Linked DNA regions of Homo sapiens: region 2 is linked to region 1. A link means that fine-mapping ties the variant in region 1 to the expression of a gene that starts in the linked region. Tissue or cell type: whole blood. Region 1 holds a variant in brackets; the other region holds the start of a gene. All regions are shown on one strand. Distances are between the middles of the regions.

Region 1 (11,102 bases):
ACTCCGTCTCAGAGAAAAAAAAAAAAAAAAAAAAGAGTTAAGGGGAGAAGGTGACGAGGTAGACAAGATCCTTGGCTGAGACCTTCAGTGAAGGGATGCAGCCAATCCTCAGAGACCCTGGCAGGCAGGAGCAGGGGGAATAAGTACGCTGACTCCATCTCCCCTTCCCCTGATTTCCTTCTGGGCCTCCAGTTGGCAGAACCAAATCGGAAGGCGGAGGGCAAGACAGTCCATTGAAGTCCACATGGGGAGAAGGGTGGAGAGGCAATGTGGGGGTTGCGGGGAGCACCAAAAGAAGATGCCCGACAGAGATGGCTAGCACCCCCGCCCCCACCGCACAACACACTCACGACACACTCACGACACACTCACGACACACTCACGACACACTCACAACACAGGACCAGAGAGCAGATCTCTACTTTCTAAGGATCTTTTCAGGTCTGACCTGCAGATTCTTCCATTTTAAATCAAGGCTAAAATATATTGAGGCTTACTGAGGTCTAGTGGCAGCTCGGAGTTATCAGTGGGTTGGGTAGTGCTTGCTGCTCTGGAACTAATGGCACAATTTTATTGCATTTAGGTCAAATTGTGCCTCAATTCCAATGTCGTATTTTTGGGTCATGGGTCTCCTCTCTCTTTCTTTTCTAAATGTGCCCGAGTATTCCTCCTGGTCCTTTGGGATGCTGACAGAGGAGCAGATATGCAGCATCTCTGCCATGATATAAGGGCTGCTGCAGTGCACAACTGTCTCCCAAGAAGGTACCGCAGGGGTGTAAAACTTCTCCCTGCATTGTCAACGCTGGTCTCCATGGATGTCTGCTGGCTTTTTCAAAAATTCTTGTAGAACAGTGCTTCTCATATGGTGATTTTGTCCCCCTTGCCCCAGGGGGACCTTTGGCCATGTCTTGAGATGTTTTTGGTTGCCGTGATTGAGGAGGTGCTACCAGCGTCTGCTGGGCAGAGACCAGGGATGCTGCTCCACATCCCACAATGCACAGGACAATCTTCTCTACAGCAATGAATTATCCAGTTCACAATCTCAATAGCACCAATATTGAGAAACCCTGTTGAAGATGGAGACTATCCACGGGGCATTGATCTTGGGGTCTCCCCCTTCCTGAATACTTGAAGTCCCTCGGCAGACTCTTGGATACCTCCAGCAATGGGGAGCTCACCACCTGTTTTGAAGCCAGGCAGGTTTGGGCTCTTCTTGTAGCTGTGTGACTCTGGATTTTCCCATAGGTGGGAGTGGATCCACCACCTTGAGCTTCAGTTTCCTCCAGTGCCATGGGATTAGCAGCAGCCCTGCCTCACAGATTGCGTGAGGATGAAATGAGATGATGCTCCTGAGTTGGCTGGTGCAGTGCACGGTACACAGAGAGTGCTCAATAAATGTTCCCTGCTGTGAATGCCCTGTCCTGGTTCACTCGCCTACATTGCGGAGCAGAGGAACTTCAGGGTTTCTTTTGTCTCCAAAATTTCAGGATTCTAGAGAGATGAAGCACTGAGTGAAGAATAATGTGTAGGTCTTTGGGAGAACTTTCCCCTTAGGGGTTGTTCCTCTGCAATGTTTGCTCATGAACATTTTGGGTGAATCATCTCTGTGGGTGTTGGAAGGAGACCTTCTAGCATAGTTTTATGATAGTCTGTGAAGGGAAAATCGGAATTCCTAAAGAAGGAAGCAGTGGGATGTCAGTTAAGTTGGGAAGCTGATGGCTCTCAGGGCCACCATTCATCACATTTCATTGAGGGGCAGCTCTACTTGGCTGCCAAAGGGTGGGCCTGGGACCCAGCAGGGCCTAGCTTGGGAGACTGGGGTTGGTGGGATGCGAGAGGGGGAATGGCCATCCCAGATGTGTCCAAACAGCTGGGTCCAGAGAGCCCTGTACCCCTGGAGGAATTGCTCAGCACTCTCTATCTGCTCCCCCAAATGCATAACTCTGGAGAGTGTAGGGCTTGGAGAAGAAGTATGCGTGGGGCTCAGGCCCAAGTCCATGGACTTTGAGAAATGACGCTTCCCTTCATTCTCATAATTGCTTAAAGCTCTCCTTCTGTGCAGGCTCCATGCTCATTCTCTCATCTGGTTCTATAATTATCCCATTTAGTGGATGAAAAGATTAAGGCCCAGAGAGGTGATGCCCCTTTCTGAGGTCACACGAATGAGAAGGGGCATGGCTGCGACTCATTCCAGGTGGCCGGGCTCCAGAGCCTGCTCCTGTGTCTCCCGCTCTGCTGTGCTGGTTTCTCCTGCAGAGCCTGCCTGTGGCTTGGGTATCAGCATGCACCTCAGCCCTCCTCCATCCATTTCCCCTTAGCCTGGAATCCTCCAATCTACGCGAGAAACCAAATGTTAACAACATTTAATCTCGCCTGGAGATTAGTGATAATTTGTGGCCTCACCAAGGTGGGGAGAGTTATTATTCAAAGTAGATATAAAGTCAGGAATGTAAGATACAAGGCAGTGTGACCAAGGGCATGGAACCTGTGGAGCAGAGGAACATGGCGGGGATGGACAGGCCAGGGGGCCCAGACCTGTGGAAAGGAGTTACTCAACACTTCACATTTACCTGCTATTCCCTAGGACAGGGACCTGTGGGTTTTTGAGGGGCCAGATGGAGGAATGTGGGAAGTGTGGGTTTATGGGGAGGATGTGTTCCCTGAGGAGACAAGAGAACAATGAGAGATGAGAGAGAGAATCCAGGAAGAGATGGAAGAAGGGGAGTAAAGAGGGGAGGGTGAGGGGGAAAAGGAACAGAGGGAAGAGATGATAAATAAAGGTGACCATGACTGCACTGAGCTCCTGTTATGGGATGGATGCTATACTAAACACTTGCATGCATTACCTTGCGTCCTTAGGACAATGTGATAATGCAGATTCATTTATTACCATTCTACAGATCAGAACGTAGATTCAAGTGAGTTTCCCCAAATTCGAGAACTAGCCAGTAACAAAAGCTGTGATTCAAATCCAAGATCAACACACCAGGGGAGAGATTTCTGCTTTTCCCCACTTGTCTTAGTCTGTTTGAGCTGCTATCAGAGAATACCTGAGACTAAGTAATTTACATGCAGAAACTTATTGCTCACAGCTCTGGAGGCTGGGAGGACAACATCAAGGTGCTGGCAGGCTTGGAGATTCTGATTCCAAGATGGTGCCTGGAATGCTGCATCCTCCAAACGTGGGGAACAAAACACTTCATCTTCACATGGCAGAAGGCAAAAAAGAGGCAAAAGGGAGCCAAAGTCATCCTTTATAATGGCATCAATCCAACTCATGAGGGCAGAACCCTCATGACCCATCCACCTCCCAAAGGTCCCATCTCTCACTACTGTTCCCAACAGCAGTTAAATTTCAACACGAGTTTTGGAGGAGACACACATTGAAACCCTAGCACCACTGGAAGGTTTTCTCCTAGGGTGTGTTTGAAGGAGCGTAGGATATGGGGGTGAAGTGACCTGGGTTCAAGTTCCACCCCTGCCTTGTGTGCGCTCACTGGGCAGCAATGGGGCTGATGAAGTTCTCAATGGGGCCAATGGAATTCTCAATGGAGCCAATAAAGCCAGTCCCTGGGAGGTAGCTCCCTGCCTCTTGTGCGCTAGGTAACCTTGGACCTATTCCGTCAACCATCTGAGCCTTATATTCTTCGCCTATTAGAAATAATAACAAGATAAACCTTCACAGGGTAGTTGTGAGGACTAAGTCAGCAGATCCTCGGGAAAGTGGTGTCTACATTTTAAAGTGTTGTGCTTGTGCAAGGGTTTCTATTCATCATCACTGTTTCTGGTTTCTAGAACCTGGGTTTTCCCCAGGCTCCCCGAGGGGCAAGATCAACCCGATAACACATATTACCCTGCAGGTAGCAGCCCTGTATCTGCAGCCCGCTCTCATTTCCACCAGCCGGAGTTGCTACTCATTGTAGCAACCATGTGTTTCTTTCCACTGCTGGAGCCTCTGGTGTCCCCTGCTGCGCCACTGTCCTTGTGCCCTATCATCCCAGACCTGCTTTCTGCCCTCCTGAGACTGCAGGTCTGCATGGATCCCCTAGGTTGCCTTTTCTACTTTGTGTGATTTTTATACTTATAGCTCTCAATATAGTTAATTCTACATGAGACTGTAGGGTCCCATGTCCTGGTTGTCGTACATCTTCTAAATAGGTGGCCACGGTAAAGAGCTTATATGGTTTCTTCACTTGCTCACCATTAACTGATTCACTTATTTATCTCTTTGGTTATTTGTGCATCTATCCATCTAATGGTCATCTCCTTTATTCCAGCAATATTCAACAGACTTTTACTCAGCATTTACTATGTACAGTTGCTGAACAGATAAATACAATAACTGCCTTTTTCTTTTGAGTCAGGGTCTCACTCCGTCACCCAGGCTGGAGTGCAGTGGTGCAATTATGGCTTACTGCAGGCTGGAACTCCCAGGCTCAAGCAATCCTCCCACCTCAGCCTCCCAAGTAGTCAGGACTACAGGGGCAAACCTCTATACCTGGCTATTTTTTTTTCATTTTTTATCTTTTATAAAGACAGTGTCTTTCTGGGTCATCCAGGATTGTCTTGAACACCTAAGTACCATTTTTAAAATGTGGTAAGATACATATAACAGGAATGTCACCATTTTAACCATTTTT[A/G]AGTGTACAATATAGTGGCTTCAATTACATTCATGATGTTGTGCAACCCTTACCACTATCTGTTTCCAAATCTTCACCCCAAACAGAAACTCTGTACCCATTAAGCAACAATTTCTCATTCCTCCTTACCACCGCCCCCCCCAGTCCCTGGTAACCTCCAATTTACATTCTATCTCTGCAAATTTGCCTATTCTAGATATTTCATGTAAGTGGAATCATACAGTATTTATCTTTTGTGTCTGGCTTATTTCACTTAGCGTAATATTTTCAAGGTTCAACCATGATGTAGCATATACCAGGACATCATTCTTTTTATGGCTTAATAATATTTAATCGTATGTATATATCACATTTTACTTACCCATTTATCTGTCAATGGACACTTGAGTCATTTGCACCTTTTAGCTATTATGAATAATACTGCTCTGAACATTTGTGTACAAGTATCTGTTTGAATGACTATTTCCAATTCTTTTGTGTGTATACCTAGAAGTGGACATTCTGGGTCATAGCATAAATCTATGTTGAAATTTTCGGGGGACCAATAGCTGCCATTTGTCAGCACTTACGATGAGTCAGACATTGAGTTTTATACTTTATTCACAATGTAATCTAATCCTATGATAGCCCCTCAAGGAACTTATCATCATCCCTCAGATGAAGACACTGAGTTGAAGAGAGTGTATCAGCCAACTATTGCCGAGTAACAAACCACCCCCAAATCCAGTGGTTCACAGCAGCCATCACTTATTCTTGCTCACACATTTGCAAGTTGGCTTAGGGCTGGTTTGTCAAGGCTGGGCTCTGCATGGGGAGCTCGGCTGAGGTGGCTCAGCTCCACATGCTTCTGAACCTCCTGGGAGCAGAAGGCTGGCCTGAGAATGTTCTTCTTAAGGCAGGAGTGCAGGAGAATGGATTAAAGCCTGCAACACATCTTTTAAAACAGGCATCCTGTCACTTACTCCTCATTCTATTATCTAAAGCAAGTCTTATGCCCAAACCCACAGTCAAAGGGCAGGGAAATATGCTCTGCTCCTTTAGTGGGATAAATTGCAAAGTCACATGGCAAAGAACACAGACAAAGGAGGGAATAAAGAGCTGGGGCCAATAATATGACCTAGCACAGGGATATTCATGATTCTCCTAAGATCAGAATGTGTGTGGGCTAGGGCCAGAATTCAACCTGAAGCCACTGGGCTCCAACTCCCAAACTGTTCTGATTTTATCTCTTTGCTTTACAAAGACAGAACACTGAAGATTCTGCTCTCAGGGTGTTGATTGACGTCTGGAAGGCAGAGACTCGTGGATTAGCAAGCATGTGTAAGAAAGTGCTCTGGATGCCACAGGGTGGTAATTTGTGCATGGAAAATGGCTGGGGTGAAGAGGAGACTAGGGTAAGTTCCACCTGAGGATGGAGAATGTGAAAGAAAGTTTTCCTAGGGGGCTGGTCTTTGAGTGGAATCTTGAAAGTTGGAGGAAGGGGAAGGAAAGGGTGTGCTGGGCTGAGGGAGTAGAGGGACAAAGGCCTGAAGGTTGGTAAGGTGATGGTGAGCTTGGGGGTTTACATGCAGTTCAATAAGATTGGAACAGATTTTCCAGGGGTGGGGTGAGGGTACAGAAGTGTGAGCAGTGTCAGCAGTTTGGAAGGGTCTTGGAAAGGGATATCCAGAAAATAACTTCAGATCTTTGTACAAATGAGAAAACAGAGGTTCAGAAGGTTGATGGATGAGCCAACAGCCTCAAGGAGACTGCTGAGTATGTGGACTTGTGCCCCATCTCCTAGGGGAGAAGCTCTTTGGATGACCTATTAATAGTATGAGAGGTGTGTGTTAGTCCATTTTGCATTGCTATAAAGGAATACCCAAGGTTGCGTAATTTATAAACAAAGGAGGTTTATTTTGGCTTACAATTCTGGAGGCTATACAGGAGGGATGGCGCCAGCATCTGCTTCTGGGGAGGACCTCAGGAAGCTTCCAATTATGGCAGAAGGTGAAGGGGGAGCAGGCATGTCACAAGATGGAGCAAGTGAGAGTGGGAAAGAGGTGTCAGTCCCTTTTAAAACAACCAGATCTTGTGGTAACTCATTACCATGGGGAGGGCACCAAGCCATTCATGAGGCTTCCACCCCTATGACATAAACACCTTCCACTAGCTCCACCTCCAACATTGGGGATTACATTTCAACATGAGATTTTCAGGGGAGAGGCAAATATCCAAACTATATCAAGGTGTATGATGCATAGCAAAGGAGACAATGCCCAAGGCGTGATAGCCGGGGGACTTGGTGGGCACTGGATGGAGGATTTGGAGGCCCAGATTGGAGAGCAAAAGGAAGAACTTGAGATTGAGTGTCTTAGTTCGTTTTCTGCTGCTCTAACAGAATACCTGAAACCCAGCAATTTGTAAAGAACAGAAATGTATCCTTTTACAGTTCTGGAGGCTGGAAAGTCCAAGATCAATATGCTGGTACCTGGTGTGGGCCTTCTTACTGCATCTTCACATGGCAGAAGGTGGAAGGGCAAGAGAGGGGTGAACTCTGTGTCCTCACATGGCAGACAAGCAGAAGAGAGTGAATACACTTTAGCAAACCCTTTTCATAGTGGCATTAATCTATTCATGAGGGTGGAGCCCCACCTCCCAAAACTGCTGCATTGGGGATTAAGTTTCAACATGATTTTGGAGAAGACAAAACATTCAAATCATAGCAATGAGTGTAGGACGCAAGCCAGGTAACCTCACTGTATCAGTGAGCAGTTGTACCCTCACTGTATCAGACCAACGTTGGCTACAAATTTCCTGCTGCAAAACATGAGCTCTCAAATGGAAAAGAAATGAAGATAGTTCATGCCTTGTCACATGCAACAAAAACGTTGCTTTATTTTGTCTGGGAAGAGCAGAGAGCCACTGAAGGATTTTGAGCAGTGCAGCGATGGAGATAGGTTTTGAAGGTCATTTTGGGACTGGAGCATGAGGCAGCAAGACAGCAGAAAGTCACCAAGTGGGGTCCAAGCTGATTCCATTGGCTTATTAGTGAAGGGCTCTAATCCTGCCAGGGGCTGGTGCCACAGAGTTGTGCCACATGTGACAAAGGACATGCTCCCTGAGCCAATCTCTGGACTCTGCAAGTTCAGTGCTTAGGGTCAATCACTCATTCCAGAAATGTTTATTGAGCACTTACTTTGTGCCAGGCACTGTGCTAGAACTCGAGGTGGACACAACCATGAGCAAAGAGGCAAACAAATCTATGCCATCATGGAGCTTGCAGTTTGAAGAGTTCCTCAACTGGGGCAAACCCAGTGATTGTTTCTCAATTCCTTCACTGTTTGTTCAGCTCCCTTGACAGCTGGTCCATTCCGTCTCAGGCTATACCTAGCACACAGTGAAAGGAGAAGGGCACCAGACCACAAGGTTTCTGTTATGATCCTGGTCTTGAATATCATGACCTGAAGAAACCTTTACTTTTATTATTATTATTACTTATTTATTTTATCTTTATTTTTATTTTTTTGAGATGGAGTCTCGCTCTTGTCATCCAGGCTGGAGTGCAGTGGTGTGATCTCAGCTCACTGCAACCCCCCCCTTCTGGGTTCAAGCGATTCTCCTGCCTCAGCCTCCCAAGTAGCTGGGATTACAGGCACTTGCCACCACGCCCAACTATTTTTTTTTGTATTTTTAGTAGAGACAAGGTTTCACCATGTTGGCCAGGCTGGTCTCAAACTCCTGACCTCAGGTGATCTGCCCCTCTTGGCCTCACAAAGTGTTGGGATTACAGGTGTGAGCCACCGCACCCGACCTGTTTTTATTTTTATTTTTTAATTTAGTTTTTTGGGACAGAGTCTTGCTCTGTCACCGAGGCTGGAGTGCAGAGGCACGATCTCAGCTCACTGAAACCTCTACCTCCCGGGTTCAAGCCATTCTCCTGCCTCAGCCTCCTGAGTAAGCTGGGTCTACAGGCATGTGCCACCATGCCTGGGTAATTTTTGTATTTTTATAGAGATGGGGTTTCACCATGTTGGCCAGGGTGGTCTCAAATTCTTGACCTCACGTGATCCACCTGCTTCAGCCTCCCAGAGTGTTGGGATTATAGGCGTGAGCCACCATGCATGGCCAGAAGGGACCTTTAAACCCCTAGAGTACACACACATCTTTGCAGCTGGGAAAACTAAAGCCTAGAGTGGCCAAGTAGCTTGCTCAAGAGCACACGGCATTAGAGATAGGGCGGGGAAAAGAGCTCTTTCCACTATTTAGTCTTTTAATATATTTTTGTTTGTTTTCACTGGTAATTATTGAGTGTCCACTGTGTGTGAGGTCTTGGAAACGCAGATATGAATAAGTCGCAAGGAGTCCCTATGCCCTTGAAGCCTCACCATCTAGTCTAGTGTAGTCCAGTGTAACTTTCAGGGTGATAGAATCATTCCATGTGGTAGCCACAAACCAAATGTGACTGCTGCAACTGAAATGTGCCTGGTGCAACTGAGGAAGTCTTAACTTTATCTCATTTAAATTAATTTAAACTTAGGCATCCACATTTGGTCAGTGGCAGCTGTGTTGGACATTGCAAGTCTAGTCTATGGTCACATGACCTCACACACACACACATTGATATTGTTTGGCTGTGTCTCTACTCAAATCTCATCTTCAATTGTAGTTCCCATAATCCCCACGTGTCGTGGGAGGGACCTGGTGGGAGGTAATTTAATCACAGGGGCATTTACCCTCATGCTGTTCTGGTGATAGTGAGTGAGTTCTCACTAGATCTGATGGTTTTATAAGGGGCTTTTCCCCCTTTGGCTTGGCACTTCTTTGTCCTGCCACCCCGTGAAGAAGGACATGTTTATGTCCCCTTCCACTATGATTGTAAGTTTCCTGAGGCCTTCCCAGCCCTGCAGAACTGAGAGTCAATTAAACCTCTTTCCTTTATAAACTACCCAGTCTCCAGTATGTCTTTATTAGCAGCGTGAGAACAGACTAATACACACAGTCATGAACTGTGATGAGTGCTGTGATAGATCAGAACCACTACATTGTGGGTCCGCAGGACCACTGACAGGTTCCATGAGTGATTTCAAGTTCTTTACTAGAAGGACTCCCAGAACTCAGAAGACCTGTTATCCTCATGGTTATGGTTTATTACAACAAAAGGATTCAGATTAAAATCTGCCAAAGAAAAAGGTGCATAGGGCAGGGTCCAGGAGAGACTTCCAGTTGTCCTCTCCCAGTGGAATCTTACAAACATGCTTAATTCTCCCACCAATGATGGGTGACAACATGTATCGAGTGTTGCCAACCATGGAAACTCACCTGAGCCTTGGTGTTCAGGGTTTTAATTGGAGGTCAGTCACATAGGTGTGGAGTTACCTATGGAATGACCTTAATTACTTGGTCACCAGCCCCTCCAGAAGTCAACGTGATATAATCACATGGTTACATAGATTGTCTGGCCTGGTTTGGCCCAAGTGCCCAGGTATACAAAGACACTTGAGTTAGGGAGGATACTGCAAGAGCTTAGAGTTACTCTCCCAGCAGTCAGTCAGGTGCTTTCTTTGGAACATGCAGGGTGTGAACACCGTAAGTCTGCTAAGTTAACCCTTTAATGCACACTAGGAATCTATTGGGGAAAATGACGGGGGCTTTGAAGCTTGGAGATTTAGAGAAGGTGTTGCTTGTTGCTGACCATTTCATCTGAGTAAGTTATCACCCTTCTCAGTGGCATGCTCCTACCATTTGACTTATTGTAATTTATAATTTTTCTATTTATCTGCTTGTTTACTTGCTTTTATCTGCCTCGTTTGCTAAACTAAGAGCTCCAGGAGGGTAATTTGTGTGTCTGTTTAGTTTCCTCAGTTTTCCCAGGCCTTAGCATGCTTAGTGTGCTGCTTTGCAGGGCCAACACTAGGAAATGAACCAAATGAGGCACTGTTCTGGGGTGCAAAATTTAAGGGGCGACAGAAGCAGTGATAAAAAAATCAGTAATCAAGATAAATAATGTTATAATGTAGTATTTTCAGAAATCAAAATGCAAAAAATCAAAAATATCAAAATGTTAAATAAAGATGGTGTAGTAGTTTGTTCTCGCATTGCTATAAAGAACTACCTGAGACTGGGTAATTTATAAACAAAAGAGGTTTAATTGACTCACAGTTCTGCAGGCTGTACAGGAGGCATGGCTGGGGGGCCTCAGGAAACTTACAATCATGGCAGAAGGCGAAAGGGAAGCAGGCACATCTTACATTGTCAGAGAAGGAGACAGAGGCTGAAGCGGGAGGTGCCACACACTTTTAAACAACCAGATCTCGTGAGAAATCACTTATCACAACAACAGCAAGGGGGGAAATCTGCCCCCATGATCCAATCGCCTCCCACTAGGCCCCTCTTCCAACATTGTGGATTACAATTCCAGATGAGAGTTGGGTGGGGACACAAATCCAAACCATATCTGATGGAATCTATTGTTGATTTTCC
Region 2 (9,838 bases), 54 kb before region 1:
TCAGAGACAGGGTCTCACTCTGTTGCCCAGGCTAGAGTACAGTGTTATGATCACGGCTCACTGCAGCCTTGAACTCCAGGGCTCAATACATCCTCCCACCTCAGCCTCCTGGGTAGCTGGGACTACAGGTGCATGCTACCATGCCTGGCTTATTTTTTGTAGAGACAGAGTCTCATTATGTTGCCCAGGCTGGTCTCGAACTCCTGGGCTCAAGTGATCCTCCTTCCTCAGCCTCCCAAAGTGCTGGGATTACAGGTGGGAGTCACTGTGCCTGGCCTAAGTTTCTTCTAAAAATGTTTCATGTCCAAAACCCTCACTTCCACCCTGTGTGTGTGCTGGGGGCATGAGAGACTGGGGGGATCTCTGAACATGAGTCCCCTCAGATGCAGAATTAGGCTGGGGGGATGTGGGAAGTTGGGGATGGAGGCTGTGGCCTCATCCTCACTCGCTGTCTTCTCCCCCAGGTGGCTCCATCTGGGCCGCATCTCCAGGACTCCTGGCCTGGACTTCTCTTTGGACCTCGGGTGACCTTGGATTCTGGCCACAGTGACTTAGCGGTCAGACTCCGGTGGTTTTCTAGCCCGCTGGGTGACTCCCTGAAGATCTCATCCTCTTCACACCTGTTGGGATGGAGCCTCCCATGGATAGGAACTCTTCCTGGTTGATGCTCAGCAGATGACTGATCTGGCTCTGGAGGACAGCTCCAGGGGTATGAGGGAGGCCTGGCAGCCCACTACTCCCTCCTCACCTGCTCGGGCCCTGCCTGCTGGGCCCTATTGTCTGGGTCTGGGGGCCCTTTCCTGCCCCATGTGAACTTGATTCCTCCTCGCGTTTCTGCCGGTGACCAGACAGAGCCTGGCCTGGGCCAAGTCCCCACTGACCACACTTTCCCCAAGGCTGGGTCTCAAAGGACCCTACAGGATGGGGACAGGAACAAGGATGGGAGTCGGGGAGGGGCTGTCAGGCAGAGGGCAGATGCAGCTCCTCGGGTGCCGCTGGCTGGAGTCCTTTGTCTCCATTTGCTCAGTGCGTAATTGTCATTTTGTGGGGGACTTCCTTGGTGGGGCTTTTCCATGCTTTTCCTCTCCCTGATGGTTACAAAGAGGAGACAGTCAGGATCTGGGAGGAGCTGGAGCCTTCCCCCTGTGCTGTTGAACTCTGGGAGGGGCAGCCAGAGGGGCTGAGAGTGCACCATCCTGAAAAGAGAGGGTCTTTAAGAGATAAGATTTAGGCTAGGGAAATTCACTAGAAAGAGACAGGTGGCCCTGGGTTTTTTTTCCTGCCATCCAAAGGGAACCAGTCTTACCCAAAGGCTTAAGGGGTCACCTTAGCCCAGTCTCAGGACACTCTTCTCCAATCAGATCGCTGCTTCTAGTTGCACTGCTCCTGGATTCTGTTCTTGGGGAACAGAAGGTGGCAGGACAGGCCCCACAATCTGCAATTCCAGCTCCCTCCAGAGGAGACAGTCCCAGCGTTTGCAAGAGAGCAGCTTGTGGCCTCCCTTAGGCAAGTTTAAAAGCCAGATGTCCTTTTTCCCAGAATGCGGAGTGGTGTGTACTATTCATCAGCTTGGGCTGCCACAGCACCATGCCAGACTGGATGGCTTAAACATCAGGAATTTATTTTCTGCCAGTTCTGGAGGCTGGAAAGTCCAGATCAAGGTGTTAAGACTTGGTTTCTGGTGAGGCCTCTCTCCTTGGCTTGCAGGTGGCACCTTCTCACTATGTCCTCACATGGCCTTTTCTCTGTGGAGAGGGACAGAGAGCATGAGCAGGCTCTGGTGTCTCCTCCTCTTCTTATAAAGACACTAATATCACCATATTAGGGCTTAAACCTATGACCTCATTTAACCTTAACCCCTTAAAGGTCCCATCTCCAAAAACAGTCACATAGCAGGCTACTGCTTCAACATATGCATTTGGGGGAGGGGACACCATTCAGTTCTTAACAGGGTGGTCACCGCAAACATGGAAAGTCAGAGCCTTCTCCCCTTCAGAATTCCCGCCCCCACCCAGGGATGGGGAGGAGGAGCAGAGAGGTATGGGAAGCAGACACGGAGAGTGGCAGGTACCATGCTGGGGTGGCTCAGGAGTGCTTCGGAGGACATATGGAACTGGCAGGGCTCAGTGCAGGGAGGCGGAGGCCCTGGGAGAGCCGTGTCCTGAGAAGGGCCTGGGCTACAACCCTGGGCAAGTTACTTCACCTCTGAGCCTCCGATGCTCTGTGAAATGGAAGGAATGTGCTTGCCTGTCAGGTGCAGGGAGAATTCAGTGAGATTGTGTGCCTAGCACAGTGCCTGACTCCCAGTAGGTGCTCAGCAAATGCTCCCATCCATCTGGGAGTATAGACTTAGGGTTTATCTATTTTTTTTTTTTTTTGGCTCTCTGGACTTTAAAACTCAGCATCTTCTGAACCAGAGGCATTTCTGATTAGCCCTTCCCTACCTATTTTCCTAGTATCACTCTTTAATCAGCTTGGGGAGGTGGCAGCATTTCATGGCCTCCGTAGTAACTCACAATGCTTCCTGGGGTATTTAAATTCTACTCTCTCATCAGCACTGAGCACCTACTTTGGGCCCTTTCCCGTGCTAGCCATTTGGGGGAAATATAGGTGAAGAGTGGCTGGGGTTTGAACCTTTAGGATTTCACAGCCATGCTGGATGGGATAAAACCAGCTCACATGGAGAATCAGAGAATGGGACAGTGCCACAAAACAGTCTACTGAGGCACAAGTTCTGAGTGCCTGGGAAGTGGTAGAGAGACCCCAGAGAGGGCTGCTGCAGTCTGGAACAGCTTCCTAGCAAGCTGTACCAAACAGGGCCTTGAAGGATGAGAAAGATCTGGCTGAGATGATACCCGACCCTCTAGGGAAATTCTTAAAGTAACTTCTAGGAAATGTCATTGCTCCTTAAAAAAAAAAAAAAAAAAAAAAAAGCAGGTTCTAATTCAAATTCCGCTGCACTACTGAAGTAGTGCAGGACTTATCAGAACCTTTAAAATGCTAATGGCAATTTCAAATACTCAGGGACAGGGCATAGGATGAAGTGTTCCTTGACTTTTATGGCCGTAGAATCTTTTTCTCATGGAACATCGTTTAGAACTGTGGGAGATGCTAGGCTGGGGTTTCTATGGGAAAAGTACAGCAGTGATAGAAGATGGCATAATTAGGGTACACTTAGGTGCTTTGTAGCATTGGCTGAAAAGGAAGCAGACCGGGTGGGCGTGGGGGAGTCTCAACTTGGTTCCAGGAGCCAGGCCAGCTTGATGCGTTTTTTTTTTTTCTAATGGTGGGAGGGCAGGCCAATAGTTGGAGAAACTAGAGGCCTGACAGTCGGTGATGGAAGAGATGTCTACTAAGCACGGTTGTCAGATCTTTTGCGGAGAGATGCGGGTGTGCGTGTGTCTGTCAGAGTGTAACAGGATCCAGCCCTCTGGGAAGGGGCTGACCAGAACCAGGCAGGGGGTTTCTGTCTAGGACAAGTAGGGTCCATTTTCAGGGGAGCTGAAATATTTGCAGGGGGTGCTCTGAGACCCACAGCCAATAAATAGGGAAGCAACATGCTTTTGGGCAGGGTCCATGTGGTTAGGGTTGATTTTGATGGGGCTGGGGGGCTTAGAGTTAGACCCCCTGCCCTGGTCAGGCCCCACTCCCTGGCTGGTGGGGGCGGGAGGCCTCTGAAGCTGCAGCTGGAGGGGCCGGGGCAGTGTTGCATGGTGTGATTAACCTACTAACCCAGGGCTCAGCCGGGACGCTGTGGCGTGTGACGAGGTGCCTGGCCTTCTGCCAACCAACTAACCCACTAACCAGGCCCGAGCATGCCCTACTAACCACCCCCCCGCAGCCAGATCCTACTAACTGTGCAGCTCATGGGCCTTTCAAGGGGCTGGGATATGGGGGCAGCCAAGGCTCCAGAAGGCTCTGCCTATGGGCTGGGATCTTTGTGCAGACCCACGTTCCAGGACAGAGAATGCAAATAAGACTCACCAACTCTGCCACTTCCTGTTGAGTGAGTTTGAGTAAGTCACCTCACTTCTCTCAACCTCAGTTTCCTCAGTGGTAGAATGCGAGTTCTGATACCTTACAGGTTGCAGTGAGGATTCCCGTCAATATAAGGGTCTCAGCACATGGCAGACACCTAAAAAAAAAAAAAGTATGAGGATGGAGGAAGGCCCCTCAAACCTGGTTGAACACGTCTGCTGCCTAGGCCCTGGCCTCTCTGGGTGTTCTGCACACAGATCCTTCTGCCTGGGGCAAGACACTTGGCTTTGAATCCATGTCACTTCCCCACATTCTTCCTCCGTCTCAGCTTTCTTTTCTGTAGGCAGCTCTTTTGTTCGATTACTAACCCGTCTAACCCCTGGGGTGCCTCAACTGCACCCCGATCATCCCTTAACAAACTAACGGACCTGCGTGCGTTCTTCCTTTTCTCTTAGCGACTCCTGTGTGTGTCTGCTGAGGTGCCCTGTCCGCTGGTGCTGTGCTCTGACTTACTAACCCAGCCCCTACTAACCCTGTTTTCTCTTCTTACTAACCCCAGCCCTGCCGAGCTCTGGGCTCCCCCCGGGGGCTGGTCCCCCTCCTTTTGGCAAGCAGATGACCTGGGGCTACTGGCCCTGTAGACAGATGTCCCACTTTGCTGCCCCATATTGGCTGTAAGATCAGAGTCCACTGGGCCAGGTCTAAGGCAGGGGATGGCCCTATTAACAAGACTCAGAGGAGGAAGAGGTGGTCCTGTGGATGTGGGAGGCTGGACTCTGAGTATGACATCTCTCCTATGTGCAGAAGTCTGGTTGCCACTGGGAGTAGGTGGGACCAGGGAAATCTCTGGGACGTGAGTGTGGAGGCCTGTTGGTCTAGACTCTAGACTGTGGAGCTCTGAGCTTTTGTGTCCTCTGGAAGGAAGCTGGGGAAGAATCCTCTCCATTGTTAAGTGACGGGGATAGAAGCTGTCCTGCACAGGAAGTCACGAGGGGGGCGTATCCCACGAGGAAGGCAGGAGGGGGCGTGCCCCTCACCGGAAATTAGCAGAGGGGCGTGTCCCACACCGGAAGTCAGAAAGCGGAGCCTTTCTTACACCGGAAGTCAATGAAGCGGGTCTTTCCTACGCTAAAAACCACTGAGTGGAGTATTTAGTACACAGGAAGTCGGCCAGAGAAACATTTCTCATATTTGAAGGCCGGAAAGAGGGACATTTCTGACACCGGAAGTCAGTGAGAGGACTCTTTCCCACACAGGAAGTCAGCTAGAGAGCCGTCTCCCCTCTCTGGAGCCGAGAGAGGCCGGTTTCCCCCACCGTAAGTAGACGTGGGGCCGTGACCGGAAGTCCTTGGGAAAGATCCGTCCCATTCCCGGAAGCTAGAGGGCGTTAGTTGTCGGGTTGAAAAGGGGTGTGGGGAGGGGAAGCAGCTTTACCCCGGGCTCGGAGTTTGCAGGAGAGAGAAGTGGGGAGCAAGAAGTGAACCTCAGGGGCTCACAGGGTTCCCGCAGATGCTCAGGCCGGCCAGGAATGCATCTCTGGCTCTCTGTTCCCACGGACGTCACTGCCTCAGCCAGCCTCCCCCAGAGCCCGCCAGCCGCTAAGCCGGGGCCACACCTGGGGGTGATTTCATGCCTCACCTCCAGTAGGCACCTTGGTTTCTTTGGGCTAATCTCTGGCTCCCTTGCGCTAACTCTTGCTCTCACCCAGCTAATCCCTGCCTCACCCTGACTGCCCCAGGGGCTGACCACTAACAACCAACCTGGCCCTGTCTGGGGGTTCCAGGCTCCTGGCCTGGCCCTGACCGGTTCTTAATTAACCTTTCCTTCACCTTGACTAACTCCTGCCTTCCTGGTCTGTTCCTTTCAGCAGAAACTAATGGTTTGTGGATTTTTTTCTGACTAACAACAGGTCTAACATTCCTCGTTACTGTTAACAGCTTGGATGTCGGCATGGCTGGGAAGGGGCTAACACAGCTTTGAACTTGGCTAACACAGGTTTGAACTTGGCTAACACAGGTTTGAACTTGACTAACACAGGGAAAAGCATAGCTAACAATTTTGGGCGTGGTGGCTGCTCTGAGTCAGAACAATCAGAAGTCGGTAAAGATGGTAGTTTTCTAAAGGAGGTGCCAGGGCTCTGGTGTGGACCAGGCCTGATGGAGCAGTGGTACCCACCAAGGTGGGGTCAGAAGTATAGCCAGTCTTGCAAGGTTTTGGCCATTGGGCATATCTTCACTCCTCATAGTCTGCATTTGGTTTCAGTTCTTAAAAAAATATAGCCTTATAGCTACAGTAGTTTGCACAAGTAGATGCAGCTCTTATAAACCTTAAAATACCTGTCTGGTGTCTACAGAGCATATGCCATTTTGTATAGAGTCACCCTTCCCCAGGCCAGGGCCTAGAGTCTTCATTTTGGGGACTTTGTGTTTTGGAAGTTCTAGGACATAAAGCTTTAGATCAGAGTATTCAGAAGGGTTATAACTCCGTCAGTCATTTACATGTTAGTAGTATAAATTATCTGAGCTTCCTGTTCTAACTTTTAGCTCTTCTAGCATAAACTCTTCTGTGCAATTTAGCTGCACCGAGGAAACGGGAGTTTTTCTGGAAGGGACTTTTGATCTCTTTAGACTGAGGGAACGTCCTTTGGGAGTAGAGGGGCAGGGAGCATACGCAAGGGATTCCAGGTGCAGGTAAAAGGTGGCACTAGTTCAAGGTTTTGCTGACTCAGTCTGGTAGTCAGAGTCTGCAGGAGAAGACAGTTCAAGGCAGGGCCTGGAGGATTGGATCAGTTTAGGGACAGGTCAAAGGCTGGCTTACAGACCTTAGAGGCAGGTTGCTTGGGTCGTTGAATGCTAGTCTGGTGCTGAGAGCCCTTTTCTCTGGCAACTGTGGACTCAGAGCTAACCAATTGTAGTTGGCAGTGGGGGTGAAGGGTGATCCAGAGGCCTGAGCTGCAGAGGGCACAAGAGAGAAAAGATGTCTTAGAAAGAGCTTTGAGAACATGCCTTGGCTGCTGGCAGGGACCTTGGATGGGGTAGTCTACACCCGGAAGTGCCTGCCTGCCATCCTCTAGTGGCTGCCTTGCTCCATTTCACTCAAAGCAGGAAGCTCACACCTCCTATTCCTGAAACTCCTCTTTGTTTAACTGCAAAGACTTGATGCTGCTAAGGATCTACTATGTGCCAGGCACTGCTCTGGGCGCTGGGACCTGCACCTGGGCTTTTTCGTCATGGTGCTTTTATAGCCTAGTGGGAGAGTTGGTGAAGTAGATAGTGATTCAGTGAGATGGGTGTTATGATTGGTCAGGGGTCTGTGGGAGCACCAAGGAGACAGACAAGATTGATGTGCACCTACTCTGTGCCAGGCGTGTGCCAGGCATTGGGGATGTAGTGGTAGTTAAACACCATTTGGTCTTCAGGAGCTTTAATTCTAGTGTGTTGGGTGCAGGGGGGTGGAATGGGGACAGAGAGACACCTAATCCACCCTGTGGTGGCTTTCTGGAGAGGGAGGCATCTAAGCTGAGCTGTGGCTGGGTGGAGTGTGGGTGGGGATGAGTTCCGGGCAGCGAGAGTGGTGGACACCAGTTTCTGGGGATCAGAGAGGATCCAAAGAGGTTCTGGAAGGTTCATGTGGAATGTAGCAAGAGATAGGAGACATGGACATGGTGCCGGGTCTGGTTGCCAAGAAGTTTAGATTTTATCCTTAGGCCTTGGGGAGCGACGGATATGATCTGAGAAAGGGAGTTAGTGGATTTGAGTTTTAGGCTGGCCATTTGGCTTTTCCAGCCCAGGTGGAACTCAGAGGAGTTTGCAATGGCCTCTGGCCACATTTTAGACAACTGAGCAGAACTTTTTGAAACTAGGAAGACCCTTTGGTCCATCTTTTGATAAACAGAATCCATACATGTCTACCCCAGTTGGAAGTATCTCTGCAATGACTGGAAAGTAAAGAGGACCAAGGTGAAAATAAAGGCTCGGAAGGGGAGCAATCTTGAAAACATGTCATCCCATGGTGGTGGGAAGTCCCTGGAGAAGATCAGGGGAAACACAGTCATAGGCTGCAAGTCTATAAGATAATTCCATTGGGGAGGGAGCCCATTTGTCATGCATGGCTGCAAGGGGCAGATACAAGTGTGGAGTAAGCTTGCAAGAGCTGATCCTGGTCCCAGAGAGGGAAAAATATGCCTTGGTGGGTAATGAACCTTTTGTTCCCAGAGGCAGAAGGATTGGGACTAGGCCAACATAGAGATTGGCGATGGTTGTGAGATTCTAAGAGTGTGTGTGCATCTTGACAATATTAGAGGAGGCTGAGCCCAAGCAGGCACATTCTCTTCGACCCCTCCCTCATTCAGTCTGCTTTGGAGTCTACTGAACATCAAGCTTGCTATGAGCAGGATCTTAGAGCTGAGGAATTGGCCTCCCAATCCGAACAGGTGTTATAATCCTTTCTTAATAGGTTGTGCTGTGGACCCAATGTGAGGGCTGTGCTGGTGTAAATGGTGACATGTTGAGCTGGGGGGATGCTTTCGGGGTGGGGGGACTGGTTCCATTCCATCAAAGGCCCTCTTGAGAGTCTATCCAGGGACCCATTGTTTTACTTTAACAGACCAGAAAAGATGTTTGTTTTCCATGTCATTACCCCCAGGGGATACCGAATGTGTGGGTAGAAATTTCTCTGTAGATTAAAAATCAGATTTTTACATGGATTCAACAAAGGAGCGTCACTTGGATTTTTGTTTTCATCCATGAATGTAGCTGCTTCTGTGTAAAATGCCATTTTGCTATTAAAAATCAATTCACGCTGGAAACATGACTGTGGCCTATGAAGCAGAAGGGACGTGCTGTTTAGGGGAGAGGGGGCAGCCAGTGGCATTCTCAAGGAGCAGGGGTGGGCTCTCTCGGTGAGTCAGCCTTTCCTCAAGAGTGACCCTAGAAGTCAATATAATAGGGTATTTTATTTTTTAATTTTGGTAAAATAATCATAACATAAAACTTCACCACCATAATAATTTCTAAGTGAACATCTTGGTGGTATCATTCACATTGTTGTGCAACCATTATCACCATTGGTATTTATTTTTCTTTTCTTTTTTTTAGAGATGAGGTCTTGCTATGTTGCCCAGGCTGGCTTTGATCTCCTGGTCTCAAGCGATCCTCTTGCTTCAGCCTCTTGAGTAGCTGGGACTGCAGGCGTGCACCACTGTGCCTGGTGGTATTTTTAAAAAATAACACTTCTTTATGCCTAGGGCAGTGCTTCCAGAAATCCAGGTTCTTATTGCCAGGGAATTTGTTTATTTTATTATTATTTTTTTTTTGAGATGGAGTCTTGCTCTGTTGCCCAGACTGGGGTGCAGTGGCGCGGTCTCGGCTCACTGTAAGCTCTGCCTCCTGGGTTCACGCCATTCTCCTGCCTCAGCCTCCTGAGTAGCTGGGACTACAGGCACCCACCACCACGCCCGGCTAATTTTTTGTATTTTTAGTAGAGACGGGGTTTCACCGTGTTAGCCAGGATGGTCTCGATCTCCTGACCTCGTGATCTGCCCGCCTCGGCCTCCCAAAGTGCTGGGTTTACAGGCTTGAGCCACCGCGCATGGCCTGCCAGGGATCTTATACTTCACTGGGGAGTCAAAGAGTTCCTTGGTGACAGAGAAAAAGATAGAGTTTAGTGTGTGATCGTGAAGGACTGGCAAATATAAGCCACACACATCGCCACTCTTCCCTTCAGCATCCTTGACAGACATTGCAAGTTGATTGCCTATCTCTCTTTGGGAACTTGGGTGCATTTTCAGGCTCTTTCTCAGAACAGTGTTCTGGGTAGCCAAGTTTTAAAAGAACTTTGGAGTCAGTCTTAGGATTGAGAC

The links. PIP is the estimated chance that this variant, and not a neighbour inherited with it, causes the effect.
Region 2: MIATNB starts here. The variant in region 1 is fine-mapped to the expression of MIATNB in whole blood (Lepik 2017, PIP 0.95).

Annotation. Positions count from the first base shown.
Region 1 is chr22:26,720,761-26,731,862 of GRCh38, forward strand. The region is part of intron 2 of MIATNB (MIAT neighbor); the gene reads left to right. Among named protein-coding and RNA genes, the nearest start is that of MIATNB, 53 kb to the left of the region's middle. The variant A/G (reference allele first, on the strand shown) is at 4,641.
Region 2 is chr22:26,667,694-26,677,531 of GRCh38, forward strand. MIATNB (MIAT neighbor) reads left to right here and starts at 5,150. Exons shown (of 6, transcript NR_110543.1): 1 at 5,150-5,294. It overlaps MIAT (myocardial infarction associated transcript), which reads left to right. Exons shown (of 5, transcript NR_033320.3): 5 at 465-8,785. RefSeq lists enhancers at 300-883, 884-1,466.